Linked DNA regions of Homo sapiens: region 2 is linked to region 1. The links come from fine-mapping of genetic effects on plasma protein levels. A gene starts in region 1. The other region holds a variant in brackets. All regions are shown on one strand. Distances are from middle to middle.

Region 1 (5,367 bases):
TCAGAGGTTCGCCTTATTTCCCCACACTCATTTTTGCGATGGCCTGTGGGGCTCCTAGTGACCTGGGCTTCTCCCTGGGGCAGGTGAACTTTGGCCCCAGACCTTGCACTTTCAGTTTCTTTGCCCAGAAAGACTACATGCCCTGCCCCCACCTTACTTTTTTAGGTCTTTGTTCCAACTTAGTCCTCTTGTGAGACCCCCTGCCCTGCAGCTCTGCTTAAAACTACAGCTGGCTGGGCGCGGTGGCTCACGCCTATAATCCCAGCACTTTGGGAGGTCAAGGCAGGTGGATCACTTGAGGTTAGGAGTTTGAGACCAGCCTGGCCAACATGGTGAAACTCCATCTCTACTAAAAATGCAAACATTAGCCCTACTAGGGAGGCTGGGGCAGAAGAATTGCTTGAACCCAGGAGGCAGAGGTTGCTGTGAGCCGAGATCATATCACTGCACTCTAGCCTGGGCAACAGAGTGAGAGTCCGTCTCAAAAAAAAAAAAAACAACAACAAAAAAAACAAACCCACAAAACTGCAGCCACCTATGTCCCTACCTCCCCAGCCTCCAGGTCCCCTTCCCGCCTTCCTTTCTGGGCAGCATCATCATCTGACATACCAGACTTGTTCCCTTACTGTCTACCTTAATAGAGTAACAGAAGTATGGCTCCATGGGCATGGGGGCTCTGTTTTTCTCACTGCCCTGTCACCAATGTTGAAGCCCATGGTTGCCACACAACAGGGGCCTGATTTTTATAAGATGACAAAATAAATGCCACAGAAAGTACAAATTCCCTGAAAGATCCCTCACTAAGTAAAATTTATCTGTATATCTTTTTACTAATATCCAAAACCTTCGAAAGCCTTTAGAAAAATGTGTAGTAGTAGTCCTGCCTGATATTAATTTATCTAGTTTTTAAATAAACAGTGCTTACACCAATCCACATGAAAACCCAGATACAATGACTAACTGTGGCTGTTAAGCCACTGAGTGTGGACAGAATGTGCATTAGTTGAAATGAAGCATCTTTTCTGTTCAAAATCACTCAACAGGCTGTGCCCTGTGGCTCACGCCTGTAATCCCGGCACTTTGGGAGGCCAAGGCGGGCAGATCACCTGAGGTCAGGAGTTCAAGGTCAGCCTGGCCAACACGGCGAAACCCCATCTCTACTAAAAATACAATAAAATTAGCTGGACGTGGTGGCACGTGCCTGTAATCCCAGCTACTTGGGAGGCTGAGACAGGAGAATCGTTTGAACCCGGGCAGTGGATGTTGCAGTGAGCCAAGACTGCACCACTGCACTCCAGCCTGGGTGACAGAGTGAGACTCCATCTCAATTAAAAAAAAAAAAAAAAATCACTCAATAGGTACAAGGCTTTGACAAGTTTGACTCGCCATCCTTTACCACTCTGGTACTAGTATTAATAGTCCTAGGAATCCCCCAGCCCGGCTTGACTTTGCATGTGCCCTTATATCTGTTTTTCTTTCCTATAAATAAGCATCCAAAGTACCTTAGGCTAGCTAGTGTTTGTTGAGCGACTGTAGCTCTTCAATCTGCTGCTGGGCTGAACAAATCTATTTTGTTCAGATTAATACTTTACACATTCCTTTGCTTCATTATTTGCTGCTTCCTTAAAATGCTATCAGTATTGGATGAGCAGGCTCAACTTTGTTAGCTTCATAACCAAAAAATAAAAAATCTTGGGAATCTCGCTCCACTGATTCCCTAGGGGATATTTTCCCAGATCCCTTCACTTTGTTCCAACCAAGGTAGAATGCCAAATGTGTGTGCTTTAGGCCTGGACCCCCTCATATTCTAAGCATGGGTAGCGAATGAGCTCACAAAAAGGAAAAAGAGGGGTCTGGAAAGAAGACACACAAACCAGAAAATGCATACCCCTGCCTCCTGCTCTTCTCGGACTTAACTAGTATGGATACCACGTGCTTCGGGTCTCCGCGCTTCTCAGCGGTGGCCATCCCGTTTCCTGCAGCTGGGCCAGCAGTCTGGGAGAACCCTTGATTCCCTTTCACCTGCCCCAGTGCACCAGCTTCCTACCAACGCATCCGTTTCTGGGCGCACACCACATCTCTCTCCTAGGTTGTTACAAGATCCCCAACTGGCTTCCCGGCTTCCTCTCGTCCCATGCCTACCCGCGCCCCTACTTTCTAGGAAGCAGCCAGAAGGACTCCTTCAAAACACTTAAATTGCATCGCCCCGTGATCAACTTCCGAGGCCCCATAAGGCTCCGAATGAACCCCAAAGTTCTTCCCGGGCTCAGGGGCTCTGCCGGTTCACCTCCGGCAAGTCCCCTGCCCTTCGCATCTGCTGTGCCCTCTTCCTGGCAGGCTCTGCTTCCCCAGAACCTGCAAACCTCACCCCTGGAAGTCACTCGGGTTTCGGCCCCAAAGTCACCTCTCCGTGGGCCCTTGCGGGGCCACAGCTCGCACCCGCTCCTCCTTGAAGCTCGCATCCCTGACTTAGGCCGACCTCGCGGACATCCCCGCGCGGGACGCCCCACGCGAGAGCGGCCACAGGCCGGGAGCCCCCTTCGTCCTCCCGCGCGGGACAATCGGCGACAGGCGCCGGCCGCTCCCCAGCCCTGCCCTAAAGGCGCGCACCTCTCCGGCGAGTTGTGTTTCCCGCAGCCGCTGGGCTGACTCGCCGCGGGTGCCGGCGCATCCCTCCCCGGCGCCACGGCCGCCTCCATCCCCGCCCCACTGCTGCCGGGCATCCAGCCTCCTTCCCGCGGAGCGCTACGGGCCCAGAGCGCCGGGGAGGAGGCGGGGCCGCGACGCCCGGGCGCGTCCGGATTGGCTGAGCGAAGCACCCCAGCCAATCCACCCGCTTCAGAGGGCCGCCGAGCCCCCAGCGGGGAGGCGAGGCTGCGCTGGGTCAGGTGACGGGTGGGGGCGGGGCTTAGCGCGTCACAGAGCTTCCCGGGAACCGGGCGCTAGAAGCCGCGTCTCCTGGGCCGGCGGATCCCCGCACTTTCACTTCCGGGGGAGCCCCGTGACCTTTGCTGTCTGCGGCAGGGCCGCCATCGGGCCGCGGCCGGTTAGTCGGCGTAAGAGCAGGCGGGGCCCGAGCTGGACCTGAGGAGCAGAGGCGGCTGGGCAGTCCTGCGGGTGCCTCCCTCTAGCCGCATGAGCGCGGGACCGTGCACTCCGGGAGAGCCGGGGCCGCGCGGCCTTGTTCCCCGCGAACCCTCGAGGGGAAGTGCCGGGGCCGCGGCAGCAGGGCCAGGGCCCCGGGGGTCTCCCGCAGGCCACCCTGGACAGTGATGAGCAGGTCCGCTGGACCTGCGCGTCCGTTAGTCGGAGCGGCTCCATAGGGGACCTGGATGGCGTGAAGTTAAGAGTCACGCATCGAGGATGGACTTGAGGGGATCTGGAGTAGAGGATGGGAGGGCATTGAGAAAATAGGGCCAGAGATGAGGGACTCTAAGTGGGCGTGGAAACGCAGGAAAGATTAATTCAAGATCTGTTTAGGCCGTTAAATAGGAATTGGGGCATGAGGGACAGGAAGGAAGCAAGGATTAGACAAGTGACTGGGAAGATGTTAGTGCCTTTATCTGGGTAAGAGGGAAGACGGGAGGGGGAAAGATGATGGGTTTAGCTTTGGACATGTTGAGTTGTCTGTGAGACAGTCACAAGTGTAAACATCCACCAATGGTTGGTGTCCCGCCAACCATTAAGAAAAGTCAGTTGAGAAAGTGGTAGAAATGAGCAAAAATCCTCACGAAGCCATCCTACCGTCACTTTTTTTGTTGTTTTTTGTTTTTTTGGCATAATAGTGTCTACCTTTAATTGAGCCTTGAACTATGCCAGGCAGTGTTCTAGGTATTTTTCGTGTGTTCACTAATTTAATCTTGATGATTAACCCAGTCTGGTAGGTATTTATGTATGAGGAATCCAAGATACAGAAAGGCATCTTGCCCAAGTTCACACGAGTAGTGGCTGGAGCCAAAATTCGGTTTCAAGCATGCTTTGCCAAGAGGTTGAATTTTAATTGGCTTTTCATGGGCTTTCTCTATTTTGTGTCCTGTTGGGGTCCAGAATAACTTGGCTTTTCCAGCACAGCAAATCTGCAAATTTCTGGACTCATTCTCTCTCATTCTTCCCTATAAACGCAGCTCATTTCTTGCCAAATGCAGCCAATAGCAAAGGGCCCACCAACATTTAAGAAGCAAATGGATGCACAGGAGCATGAGAACAGTCAAAAGAGGAGGAAAGGAAAGGGAATTGAGAAGGAATGTCAAAAAAGTCAAGAAGACACATAATAGTGTAAAGTGTGGCTGAGAGGCAATCCGAAGTCTACTGTGCGTAACAATTAGGAGGCACTGATAAACTAGCGAGAGAAGTCTCAGTGATGGGAGAGGCATGGAAGTTAGAATGCAAAGATGGGATATGAAAAAATGAAGAATGCAGTCAACTCTTAAAACGGTTGAGAAAGGAGGAATTAAAAAGGCGTATAAGATTACAGGCAAGCTGGGCGCGGTGCTTCACCCCTGTAATCCTAGCACTTTGAAAGGCTGAGGTGGGTGGATCACCTAAGGTCAAGGGTTCGAGACCAGCCTGGCCAACATGGCAAAACTCCGTCTCTACTAAAAATACAAAAAGTAGCCGACTGTGGTGGTGCATGCTTGTAATCCCAGCTACTGGGGAGGCTGAGGCAAGAGAATCACTTGAACCTGGGAGGTGGAGGTTACACAGTGAAGCTGAAACCATGCCACTGCACTCCAGCCTGGGAGTCAGAGTGAGACTCCGTCTCAAAAAAAAAAAAAAAAAAAAAGATTAAGAGCAAATAGAGACTGAACATGTTCATAGGCTAAAGGGAGTTAGCCAACAGGACGTGCAAGGAAGAGGAGCCAAAGTCCTGGAGGAGACGATAGGGGATGAAGTTAAGAGTAAAGGTGGCTAGGGAAGTTGATAGGCATGGGGAGAATTCATTCTCTAAATCTGTTTGGAAGGCTGTAAGGATAGGAGCCCAAGGACAATGGACAAAGTGACGATTCATCCCAAGCACTCCTTGGGCCAGTTAGGCAGCAATAAGGTTTGTGTTTCCAGGTGAACATAGTGAGTGTAGTGGTGGAGTCAGACAAGATAGTGTCCAACATGGCTGGTGATACCCCGAAAGAATTGAGTACAAACATACAGAAGCCCAGGTGCTGAGGTAGCCCAGCTGAAAACAGTTTAGGGTACAACACGCAGCAGCAGCTACCACCATTCCAAGTATACTGGTCACACATGCAACAGATGACCTACCAAGATGTCTCTAATACAAACACAAGTGCCCCATAGTGGCCAGACATTTGAGGAATGGCATCTCCATGAAGATAGTGAGAGGTGACAGCGTGCTGGCAGCCCTGGCAGCCC
Region 2 (5,367 bases), 35 kb before region 1:
GCACACTCGCTGGCACTCCAGGACAAAATGCAGAGGGGGCATGAGACAGTCATCCTGGCACAGCCCTCAGGAGGGAACTGGAGGGACAACCCTGTGCCCTGCCACGGGCTTCCCAGAAGCGGGGTGGGGAAGGCGGCCCCAGTGCTAGGCCTGGTCCTCCAGCTGCGCCACGGCCTGCTTCAGGTCCTGCACGACGAGGTCCACCTCGGCCCTGGTGGTGCTGCGGCCCACGCTGAGCCGGAGCGCGTTCCTGGCCACGTCGAAGGGGACACCGTAGCTCAGCAGCACTGGGGACGGCCTGGGGAGGGCGAGACCGAGCTGCAGCTGCTGCTGAGGGCACATGGAAGAGACACAGCCCCCCCTGCTCTGGACCACTCCCCTAGTGGGGCTCTGCCCACCCGGATGTGCGCCTGCCTCGCCTGGCATCCACCTCCTGCTAAACTCCCAGACCAAGCACACCCCTAAGATCACCCACATCAAGGTGTGGCTCAAAGTCGCCCCCGTTCTCCCTGCAGAGTTCTCTTGCACTTGGCACTCCCAGGTGACACTGCCTCCCTCTCGCACTGAGCTCTGGGGCCAGGGGCTCTCCTGTCCTTGAGGGGTCTGAGGTCCTGGAGAACACGGATGCCGACACAGACAGTGCCTTACCCATGCGGCCCACCTGAGCCACTTGGTAACTTCATGGCACCTAGCATGGGGCTTTGCAGACACTAGGGACCCAGTCAGTATCTAGCCATGAACAGATGACTGCGTGGGGACATCCTGAAGCAAGGCTGTTGGAGGCTCGAGATGTGGGCTCTGTCAAGGGGCCTGACCTCATCACACCCGGGTCCCTTTCCTCCCCTGCCCCTCCTGCAGCAGGGCACTGTCCCCCCAACAAAGGGCCCCATCCTGCCCCTCCTTTTCCCTGGAGCCAGGCCCACCACTGTCTCGCTCCAGGTGCTCCTGCACAATCCCTCTGCCCTGACCTTGATGGCCACGTGCTGCTGGCTACAGTTCCGCTCTCTCCCCAGAACCCTGAGTGTTCCTCCTGCGTCCACTCCGACCTCCCACAGGGGCCTCACGTTTTCAGCAGACCAGACCCAGAACCACTTCTCCCCTGCTGCCAGCAGGCCGCTGCTCGGGCACCCCACGCCCTCTACCCCACAGTCTCCGCCAGGCAGCCCACCCGCTCACCCGGGCCCTGCTATCTGAGAATCTCTGCTGCATCTTGCAGATGGCTGATCTGACACCTGAGTCTGCTCACACCATGGCCCTCAGGGCTCCCACTTCCATGAGGTTTAAGTAAGCACTGACACTCAGGCCATCCCCACCCCAGCCCACCCCAGCCCGCCCCAGCCCTCCCCAGCCCCGGCCACGCTGGCCCTCCAGGCCCTGCCCTCCCTCCGCCTTCAGAACTGAGCACGAGAAGCCCTCTTCTCCCGCACAAGTCCTAGTCCTTCAGATGGCAGCTTGGAAGTCACTTCTTCCAGGAAGCCCTCCCTCTGCCCCTCCTAGGGCCCA[G/A]ACAGGGCTGTCCTTCACCAGCCAGAGTGCGGCCCAGTGGCCGGATCCTGCCGCCTGCCCACCACACCCAGTGCCCGGAGGACCCCTATGCCCTGGACTGGGTTTGTGAAGAGCACTTACTGGTCCCCGTGGTCCGAGTGGCACGCGGCCCCCACACTGGCCATCAGCACTCGGCACTGCGCAAGCACCACGTGGCCTGCGGAGACAGAGCACATGCCCCTGAGATGGGGCTCCAGCCAGGTTGCCCTTCTGTCCCTTCCCGGGGTCCTGCTGGGCGCAGGCTGCTTCCCTCCCTCTGTGCCACCTGGTGGAATTCCAGCACTGGCCATTCTGGCAGCTGGGGAGAGATCTCACAGCAGGAGCCGAAGAAAACGCTTCCTTTCTCCCTTGGCTGCACAAACGCAGACACTATTCTGCCTCACAAAGCTGGCCTTGAAAATCGCATTTGTAATCAACTGCCTGCTAAGACACCTGGAGTCCTGACCCGCTCCTTCCTTACAAGCTGGCAGCCCCGGCAATATCACGTCTCCACCTGTGTTCTGGATGGTAGAGACACGTGGGAGTTCTATTAAGCCAGAAGGCATTTCCCTCTTCTTTCACAAGCACAGCCATTAATGACTGCTGATGTAATTAACCTGAGAATTTCAGCCAGGTGCAGTGGCTTACACCTGTAATCCCAGCACTTTGGGAGGCCAAGGTAGAAGGACTGCTTGAGCCAGGAGTTTGAGACCAGCCTGGGCAACACAGGGAAACCCTATCTCTACAAAATATTTTTTAAAAATTAGCCAAGGCCGGGCATAGTGGCTCATGCCTGTAATCCCAGCACTTTGGGGGGCCAAGGTGGGTGGATCGCCTGAGGTCAGGAGTTCGAGACCAGCCTTGCCAACATGGCAACACCCCGTGTCTACTTAAAATACAAAAATTAGCCCAGCGTGGTGGCAGGCACCTGTAATCCCAGCTACTCTGGACGCTGAGGCAGGAGAATCGCTTGAACCCAGGAGGTGGAGGTTGTGGTGAGCCGAGATCATACCACTGTACTCAAGCCTGGGCAATAAGAGTGAAACTCCATCTCAAAAAAAAAAAAAAAAGTTATCCAGGTGTGGTGGTGCATGCCTGTAGTCCCAGCTACTAGGGAGGCTGAGGCAGGAGGATCACTTGAACCCAGAAGGTCAAGGCTACAGTGGGCTGTGATTGCGCCACAGCACTCCAGCCTGGGTGACGACAGAGTGAGACCCTGAATCAAAAAATAAATAAATAAAATGAGAACCTCTGTCTCATTTAAAGTAACACAGGTTGTCACTGAACACAAAGTCTGACCCCAGAACAAGGGGAACGTTGACAGAGAACTCTCCTTTCCATGGTGAGGAATTTGAGATGGTCAAGGAGACCCAGGCTTCACTGCCCACAAGAACGCATTTCAGCCCAGGTTCTCATGAACGCAGCCATCATGACGGTTACCCACGGGTTCTTCTTCATGGGCCAAACACGACTGCTGGGTTTCTCTGCGTGATCCAGGAAGAAGAAAGAAGCAACACTTTCATCTTCTAAGAAGTCAAAAACTTGTTTACAGATGCAGCTCATCGTGATCTCAGGGCCACTATAACCTCCTCCCAAATGACATGCGGCTGGTCAATCACCTGGACTTCCACTCTCAGGGAGTCAGGGCAGACCAGGTTTTAGGTGCATCTGGGACGGGGGTGATCCTAACTGCTCCTAGCCGAGGCAGATGTTGCAGGAAATCCAGATTTGCACTTGATCCTTACTCTGCCAGTTATTTTTGTTGTTTTTTGTTTGTTTGAGACAGAGTCTCACTCACTCTGTCACCCAAGCTGGAGTGCAGTGGCTCAATTATGGCTCACTGCAACCTCCAGGTTCAAGCAATTCTCCTGCCTCAGCCTCCCAAGTAGCTGGGACTACAGGTGCACACCACTATGCCTGGCTAATTTTTTGTAGTTTTTGGTAGAGATGGGGTTTCTCCATGTTGGCCAGGCTGGACTCAATCTCTTGACCTTGTGATCAGCCTGCCTCAGCCTCCAAAAGTGCTAGGATTACAGGCACGAGCCACTGTGCCCAGCCTCTGCCAGTTTTTAAAACTGATCACCTCCCCTTTCCCTCACTCAAATATTTAATTAAAACTGCCAACAAAATAGACAAATGTCTAGAATTTAATGTTGCTTCCTTCCCTGACGGCTTTTGGGGTGGCGCTAATGCCAGACACGAGAGTTTGCCACAGTCCACATCCCAGCAGCAGCAAAATGAGCCACGTCAGGGAGAGGAGGGGCCAGCGGCGAGAGCCCTGTGGACCACAGCACAGCCACCCGAGCCTGCTCTTGGCAACCCCAGCAAGGCCCTCTGACAGCCCGAGCTGTGTCATGCTCAGGGCAGGGCGAGTGGGAGTCACTGGCTCGGACCAGAATCCACGCACCGAGGGAGCTGTGCTCACACTCGGAAAGACCAGGGTGAGGGGCCATCACCTTGAAGCCGGGGTCCCCGGATGGAAAAGTTACAGGTATTGGGAAGCCGCTGGGTGCCTGGAAACTGGCTATTCAGATGGATTCTCTTCTGACCGAATTCAGCCTGAAAAAAATAAGTGAAATATTTGGTGACAGCTTCAAAGACACCACCACCAGCAACTGTTTGAAATTTAGACTTTTCCAGAAACACAACTTCAGCAGGTGCATACTTTTCAATCAGCATCTACCCAGAATAGTTACGGGGACGGACTATGGAAAGCAAAGTTAATTAGGAGAAAAACCAAATATTCAGAAACATATGAACCTTCCACATAAACCATGAGGTATACCACCTCTGCATATTTGATCCTGTGTCTCTGAAAAAGATCATGCCCCTGGCCTAGGGTCCTGCTTTCGGGGTTTCAGATCCCAATGTACTTTCTGCCACTGTTCTTTCTTCCCTCACTGCATCCTGCTGAGTTCCAGGCTACGCTGCAATCCCCACAGGTCCTGGGGTCTGGGAGCACCACACCCCTCCTCTCTGGGCACCTGCCCCACGCACCCTCCCCCTCCTGGTGCCCACCCCACGCTGCGCTCACTTCCAGCCTCTCTTCCAGGTAGTCGCGGACGTCCCTCATGTGGGCCTCATAAGCCTCGCAGTTCTGGGTCACCAGCTCCGCGGCCTGGGGGCAGACACACAACAAGTGGATGCACAATTCTTGCAAAATAAAGGAGGGCCAAAAAGCTTTCAACGGTACAGGTGGCATTTCCTGAAACTGCTCATTCTCCTGACAGTCACAGACAGACCATATTTTTTGAGTGCTGCCATTTGGAGGGTGTGGAAGTGCCCCAGAAACTGACTTCACCAGGTACCTCCTGACAGCACCAGGCACTGGAGATGCCTCAGCAAAGCAGCCCTGAAAGGGCTCCCTCGAGGAGCCAGCATCCCAGAGAGGCAGACGGACAAAAGCAGGGGAAGAGGGGAACAGACTCCTACCCACCAGTTGGCGCTGTGAAGGCACCTCGCAGGCCCAAGGTGGGGTGGTGACAGAGATGGCTGTACAAGGGCAGGGAATGGCGTCCCAGCAAGGGCTTTGCAGGGGACAGACAGACATTCTGTCTCTAGAACAGAGGGGCCTGGCGTGGCGGGTGGAGAGTGTGGAGGGGGTGAAGGCGCAGGGACAGATCGACAGGCCCTGCAGGCCCGGCCACGGGGCAGACGCAGTGAGGCTGAGGGAGGGATGCGATGGTCTGACTGGCCTGTCTGTTGGTCATTCTGTGGCCGTGTGGAAAATGGCAGCAGCAGGCCCCCAGGAGGCCATGGCAGGCATCCAGACCCTTGGTCTAGGGTTGGTGGCCATGAAAATGGACATGAGGCCGGTAGTGGGTGTATTCTGGAATCCAGACAGAC

Alleles and levels. Alleles are on the strand shown, and positions count from the first base shown. The strength of an association depends on the size of the effect and on how common the allele is.
For the plasma level of the protein whose gene starts at base 2,753 in region 1, allele A in region 2 goes with a lower level than allele G (moderate association).

What was found. PIP is the posterior inclusion probability: the model's chance that the variant is causal. The UK Biobank Pharma Proteomics Project read protein levels with antibody pairs (Olink). The fine-mapping took linkage between variants from a reference panel, not from the people measured, so its PIPs are less certain.
Region 2: its variant is fine-mapped to the plasma level of the SCLY protein (UK Biobank, PIP above 0.99).

Annotation. Positions count from the first base shown.
Region 1 is chr2:238,058,387-238,063,753 of GRCh38, reverse strand. It overlaps SCLY (selenocysteine lyase), which reads right to left and starts at 2,753. Exons shown (of 12, transcript NM_016510.7): 1 at 2,611-2,753. The coding sequence starts at 2,699. The region is part of intron 8 of UBE2F-SCLY (UBE2F-SCLY readthrough (NMD candidate)); the gene reads right to left. RefSeq lists silencers at 2,544-2,993, 3,134-3,343.
Region 2 is chr2:238,093,133-238,098,499 of GRCh38, reverse strand. It overlaps SCLY (selenocysteine lyase), which reads right to left. Exons shown (of 12, transcript NM_016510.7): 9 at 4,556-4,639; 10 at 3,978-4,080; 11 at 1,624-1,699; 12 at 1-298. The coding sequence ends at 145. UBE2F-SCLY (UBE2F-SCLY readthrough (NMD candidate)) reads right to left here. Exons shown (of 19, transcript NR_037904.1): 16 at 4,556-4,639; 17 at 3,978-4,080; 18 at 1,624-1,699; 19 at 1-298. Among named protein-coding and RNA genes, the nearest start is that of ESPNL, 4.5 kb to the left of the region's middle. RefSeq lists enhancers at 1-12, 1-315, 316-983, 984-1,652, 1,653-2,320 and 2 more. The variant G/A (reference allele first, on the strand shown) is at 1,504.